Homo sapiens: one gene and its partner. The protein of the gene in region 1 purifies or fractionates together with the protein of each later gene. This does not show direct contact. Each region holds a gene or a part of one and is shown in the gene's direction. Other genes may lie near its edges. The genes, in order: CD36 and MATK.

What was found.
Region 2: the proteins of CD36 (region 1) and MATK purify together in Homo sapiens (affinity purification with western blotting, with the first as the bait; one study listed by BioGRID). This does not show direct contact.

What each region holds. Positions count from the first base shown.
Region 1 is NC_000007.14:80,676,458-80,679,914, forward strand, and holds the end of CD36 (platelet glycoprotein 4), read left to right. Parts: 3' UTR 1-2,817; downstream 2,818-3,457.
Region 2 is NC_000019.10:3,777,351-3,780,629, reverse strand, and holds the end of MATK (megakaryocyte-associated tyrosine-protein kinase), read left to right. Parts: intron 1-832; coding exon 833-932; intron 933-1,012; coding exon 1,013-1,097; intron 1,098-1,178; coding exon 1,179-1,252; intron 1,253-1,442; coding exon 1,443-1,638; intron 1,639-2,034; coding exon 2,035-2,121; intron 2,122-2,207; coding exon 2,208-2,447; 3' UTR 2,448-2,657; downstream 2,658-3,279.

The sequences.
Region 1 (3,457 bases):
GAGTGTACATGCTCAACAAATCCTAGGCCCTGCATTCCTGTCATCCTCATCCGGGGGAAACACCATCATCCCAGTAGCTGCCCTATTCAACTGCAACAGTCTCCAGGACCATCAGTATACTGCATTTCATGTGCACCAAATATTTTGAAAGACATTTATAAATAATTGGCTTATGACTCATATTTCTCTATGAATACCTTCATACAGCAGGTATAACTCTTTTCTTTATGGGCTTAAATATTTTGTCACTGATCCTGCAAATGGACATCATTTTAGCACACTAGCGGTTTATATTTTAAGGACCTTCATTCTCTGTTCTGCACCTCTTCTGGAAATTGAGTAAATTTTGCTTTTTTTTTTTTACTCAGTTGCAACTTACGCTTGGCATCTTCAGAATGCTTTTCTAGCATTAAGAGATGTAAATGATAAAGGAATTATTGTATGAAATATTACAAAGCGTAGACTATGCATTGTTATTCATTATAATATTTTTTGCTGTCATAATCGCCTCATAAAGACAGGTTTCAACCATTAAAATATGTTCTTCCTTAAATTCCTGTGCTTTTTCTAGTTCCTCTTGTGTCATAAAATGTTTATCCTAATTTTCTCTCTGAAGTATATTTTATCTGAATCCACATTTCTTTATAAATCCATAGTCCTTGCTGAAATATGCTTTCTAAATTTCTACCACTTTGTTCTAGGCTAATTTTTTAAGCTAATTGGATGAAGAACAAAAAGACATTTGGTTTCATCCTTTACAGCAGTAGGACAATTGCAAAGGTTTTTCCTTTTTCATAAGGAGACACATTAATAGGTAACTCTGTTTCTTGAGCAGGGGTTCACTTATTCTGAGAGCATTAGTTCTCCTAAAAAGCTCCAGCATAGAAAGGGAAGATAAACCAAATTCTAGCTTGTGTTTTACCCACAGAAGGATACAGGACAAAGGAATAGTAACTGGCCTGTTTGGATACTAAAATCGAAAATAACTTTTAGCCTCCTCCTTATGATAGCCGCCAGAGTAAATGTTGAGCATTACTACAGAAAAGCCACAAACCAAGAATCTACCTGTTTGGAAAGATCTTTTGCATCTCTGAAGGTGCTTAAAGCATACTTAGTGCCTTTCCTTTTAACTGGGAAGATAAAAGAAGTATCTGTCCAAGATATTAATATGTAAGATAACATTGTAGACATGTTCTTCTGATAATACAAGGTTTATTCTATTTGCATTAGGATATTTGTGGACATGTCCATCTAATATAAAGGAAAGTTTTTTAATCATTGAGGCATGTAGGGCTGAGTTATATAATGTAGAAACTTCTAAAGATAATTGGATGAGAATATACATATTGACCTGTATATTATGACTAATCATGACTCAGATCTTAATACAGGGATGATCTCATAGCATTTAGATATCAGAAAAGGTTTTGACCTATATGTCTTTAATATTGTTTGAATACATGTATAATCTTTATCATTCCTCAGTGTTTCATTTCTCAAATTCTGTAAAAGGAATATAAGAGGAAAGACAATTCATATACAAAGACAACGAGATTAAAAATATGCAGTAGGAAAAATAATTACTTAAGGGGAGATTTTTTTTACATGAAATCTGGGCTTTGGATGTGTGTGTGTGTGTGTGTGTGTGTGTGTGTGCACATATGCACTGTGGTGGGAGTGGGGCAACTTGGGGAATATGTTACATGTGTGACTTTGTTTTGCCCTGGCGAAGTTAATGTTGTTCAGAAAGGGTAAATGTTTGGACACTTGCAATTGCTCATGGATGAATTTATATGTTTTAGTCATAGAAAAATTGTACCCTTTGATAGAAGCACATTTTCTTTCCAAAGCTGGTTATTAACCACAGAATTATAGCAGGTATTCATAACTTAAGTTTGAAAATCAATAGCGTCTGCAAATGGATTAACAGATTAGAGAATCAACAGCATCGGAAAATAGGTTAATGCATATTGCTTCTAACAAGTGCATGAAGAAATAGAAGAAGCTATGTAGCTTTCAGTTCTGACAGAAAAGGGTGAAGGAGGGTATCATTTCAAGAAAAAAAATAGCTATCACGCAATGGTTATCTCTGAAAATATTTGTATTAAGATGTGTATACATGGCCAGGCATGGTGGCTCATGCCTGTAATCCCAGCACTTTGGGAGGCAGGTGGATCACGAGGTCAGGAGATCAAGACCATCCTGGCCAACATGGTGAAACCTCATCTCTACTAAAAATACAAAAATGAGCGGGGTGTGGTGGCCCATGCCTGTAGTCCCAGCTGCTCGGGAGACTGAATCTCTTGAGCCTGGGAAGCAGAGGTTGCAGTGAACTGAGATCGCGTCACTGCACTCCAGCCTGGTGACAGAGCGAGATTCCATCTCAAAAAAAAAAAACAGTATGCACGTACAAATTTCTTAACCTGTTATCAATGTCTGAGCTACATAATTATCTTTCTAGTTGGAGTTTGTTTTAGGTGTGTACCAACTGACATTTCAGTTTTTCTGTTTGAAGTCCAATGTATTAGTGACTCTGTGGCTGCTCTCTTCACCTGCCCCTTGTGGCCTGTCTACAATTCTAAATGGATTTTGAACTCAATGTCGTCGCTTCTGGTTTCCTGCATATACCAATAGCATTACCTATGACTTTTTTTTTCCTGAGCTATTTTCACTGAGCTGAGCTAATGAACTAAAACTGAGTTATGTTTAATATTTGTATCAAATACATAAAAGGAATACTGCTTTTTCCTTTTGTGGCTCAAAGGTAGCTGCATTTTAAAATATTTGTGAAAATAAAAACTTTTGTTATTAGAAAAATGATTTTGCTTATTTTTATTTTTGAATGTAGTTGACTTCCATATTGTTTGATATTGTTACTATAGTTTTATATGAGCTATTATCCTTTCATGACTTATTTACATATCACTCCTATTTCCTTTTTCCAACTGTTCCCAGATGCTAGTAGTACAATCTACACATTGCAAAACGTTTCATTCTGCATACTCATGAAGGGGGCTGTGACATAGGATAAATATAAATATTTTAAAATTTTCCTTTAATTACATGAATCTTAGACAAACAGCCTCAACATCACCTGGGAACTTGTTAAAAATGCAGAATCTCTGGTTCTACCTCAGACCCACTGAATCAGAATCCACAGTTTAACAGGATCTTTAAGAAATTCATAGACACTCGAAATTTTGGAAAAGCCCTGATTTAAGTCACTGAAGTTTGACTAGCTGTAAGAGTTTTATTTGACCTGTTGCTGGTATTAGTTTGATGTATTAACAGAAGGACATAAACATACTGAGATGAGGGGGAAGTTCATCAGACCTGAAAATGTTGCTATAAATATCCCACTAAGTTTTATAATTTGCCCTGTTGAGCTTGTAAATATTTTCAAACAGTAATAAAGCTAATCTATATGGCAGAGTAGAGGGTGAAGTGGTATTAAACT
Region 2 (3,279 bases), on another chromosome or scaffold:
AAACCCCATCTCTACTAAAAAAAAAAAAAAAAAAAATTAGCCGGGCGTGGTGGTGGGCGCCTGTAGTCCCAGCTACTTGGGAGGCTGAGGCAGGAGAATGGCGTGACCTGGGAGGCAGAGCTTGCAGTGAGCAGAGATGGCGCCACTGCACTCCAGCCTGGGCGACAGAGCAAGACTCCGTCTCAAATAAATAATTAATTAATTAAAAATAAAAATGCAAAAAACATTTTGAGCTGAAGGGTCTTGCAAAAAGAGGTGATAGGTAGATTTGGCCCCGAGGGGGTGGGGGTTCACAGACCCCTGGCTTAGATGGTTCTCTCTTTGTTTTTGTTTTTTGTGGGGTTTTTTTTGAGATGGAGTTTCGCTCTGTCACCCAGGCTGGAGTGCAATGGCACAATCTTGGCTCACTGCAACCTCTGCCTCCCGGGTTCAAGTGATTCTCCTGCCTCAGCCTCCCGAGTAGCTGGGATTACAGGCATGTGCCACCACACCTGGCTAGTTTTGTATTTTCATTAGAGACAGGGTTTCTCCATGTTAGTCGGGCTGGTCTTGAACTCCTGACCTCAGGTGATCCGCCTGCCTCAGCCTCCCAAAGTGCTGGGATTACAGGCGTGAGCCACCGCGCCAGAGCCAGATGGTTCTCTGATCTTGGGTCTGGAGCTTGCAAGGGCGGCAGGGGTGAGGAGCATGGGGTCTGTGTTTCAAGGTCTGGGGACCCGCAGCTGTGTGAATGTTACATGGGCACCGGTGTGAGCGGGCCTGTCCGTCTGTCTCTCTGTCCCTGTTTGTTGGGGGTCCTGATCTCACCCCGTTCCCCACCCCCACCCCCCAGCTGTCCTGCAGGGTGAGTACCTGGGGCAAAAGGTGGCCGTGAAGAATATCAAGTGTGATGTGACAGCCCAGGCCTTCCTGGACGAGACGGCCGTCATGACGTGAGTCCCAGGGTGGGGCTGGGGACCGTGGGACGGGGGGGGTCCCAGCCCTGCCCTCACGCCCACCCCACCGCCCCCAGGAAGATGCAACACGAGAACCTGGTGCGTCTCCTGGGCGTGATCCTGCACCAGGGGCTGTACATTGTCATGGAGCACGTGAGCAAGGTGGGGCGGGGCCCAGGCGGGGAGGGGGCCCACGCAGCGGAGCAGCCCCAACATCCCGCGGCCATCTCCCACCCCCAACAGGGCAACCTGGTGAACTTTCTGCGGACCCGGGGTCGAGCCCTCGTGAACACCGCTCAGCTCCTGCAGTTTTCTCTGTAAGTGGGACTCTCAGGGTGCTGCGGCACTGGGGTCGTCGGGGCGCAGATTCCAAGATCCATCAAGGGGAAACTGAGGCACGGGGCAGGGAGGCTTTGTGAGCTTGTGGCCCCAGGCACCCCGAGCTTTCTGAGCCCTGAATGTGGGCATCCTGGCACCTGAGCCCCCACTGCCCCCTACTACCCCCAGGCACGTGGCCGAGGGCATGGAGTACCTGGAGAGCAAGAAGCTTGTGCACCGCGACCTGGCCGCCCGCAACATCCTGGTCTCAGAGGACCTGGTGGCCAAGGTCAGCGACTTTGGCCTGGCCAAAGCCGAGCGGAAGGGGCTAGACTCAAGCCGGCTGCCCGTCAAGTGGACGGCGCCCGAGGCTCTCAAACACGGGGTGAGCCCTGCCTTCACATACCCCTGGGGCTTTGGGGTCCCCCCAGCTCTGCTGTATGACCCTGGGTATGTCCCTTGGCCTCTCTGAAACTCCAAGGGCAATGGCTATGCCTCCCCAGGAAGCTCTTGGCCCATAATTGTTCCTCGTAGCCCCCCTCTGGGCCTCAGTTTCTCCAGCTCTGAAAAAGGCGTGGGCTCAGGACTGAAGGGAAGAATAACCAGGCTTCCTTCATGCACTAAGGCTGAGCTAGACTCAACTGCGGGCGGCGTTGGGGGAGGACTCAATTAGGAGAAGACCAGAGAGTGAGGGTCAACCCAGGAGGGCTTCCTGGAGGAAGCAGGGGCTGGAGCAGAAAACCTGAGGGGTCCCTCCTCACCCCCGTCTCGGGCCCCACAGAAGTTCACCAGCAAGTCGGATGTCTGGAGTTTTGGGGTGCTGCTCTGGGAGGTCTTCTCATATGGACGGGCTCCGTACCCTAAAATGGTGAGCGGGGGTCCCAGGGAGGCACTGGGTTCCGGGCAGGTCCAGAGGCTGTGGCCCTGACCCCTGCCCACGCCTGCTGTCCGCAGTCACTGAAAGAGGTGTCGGAGGCCGTGGAGAAGGGGTACCGCATGGAACCCCCCGAGGGCTGTCCAGGCCCCGTGCACGTCCTCATGAGCAGCTGCTGGGAGGCAGAGCCCGCCCGCCGGCCACCCTTCCGCAAACTGGCCGAGAAGCTGGCCCGGGAGCTACGCAGTGCAGGTGCCCCAGCCTCCGTCTCAGGGCAGGACGCCGACGGCTCCACCTCGCCCCGAAGCCAGGAGCCCTGACCCCACCCGGTGGGGCCCTTGGCCCCAGAGGACCGAGAGAGTGGAGAGTGCGGCGTGGGGGCACTGACCAGGCCCAAGGAGGGTCCAGGCGGGCAAGTCATCCTCCTGGTGCCCACAGCAGGGGCTGGCCCACGTAGGGGGCTCTGGGCGGCCCGTGGACACCCCAGACCTGCGAAGGATGATCGCCCGATAAAGACGGATTCTAAGGACTCTAGGCGCCTGTGTGTCTCTGTGTCCCCGTGCCCTCTTCCCCGGGGGCCACCTTTGGTGATCTGCTCTCGGACACCCCCAGGCGCCAGGCATCCTGGGTCCTCCCTTAGAGGTCCACCCCCCCTAGATGCCCTGTGTGCCCCAGCCCCAGTGGTCACCTTCCTACTCTGTGGAACCCACTGCAGCCCACATGATGGGATCAATTAATTGGGACCCCACTGATCCTTGGCCGAGTCTTGGGCACCCACCGGCCCCAAGCCCCTGCCTCCTGTGGCCACATGCCTGCACACGGGGGCCTCCCCATCTTGGCCCATGGAGGATCTGCCCAGCTGGCACCTGCCTGCTGGCCACTGTGGGGACACCGTTCCCTGGGGGATTCTGGGCAGGGGACCCACTTGCCATTACCCACGGGTTCCCCACTGCAGTCCCCCAGGGCATGTGGTATTCAGTGGTGGGCACCCTTTCCCAACCCATGGGGTCCCAGGCTTAAAGGATCTTGGGAGGCTGCCAACAGCCCTCAAGGTCCAAGTCTCCCCTCCCACCACAGCCCTTTCTCAGGCCCCAGCCATCCATATCCCTATGGGAGCCCCCATGATGGGAGCCCCAGGAGGGTCTGCATGTG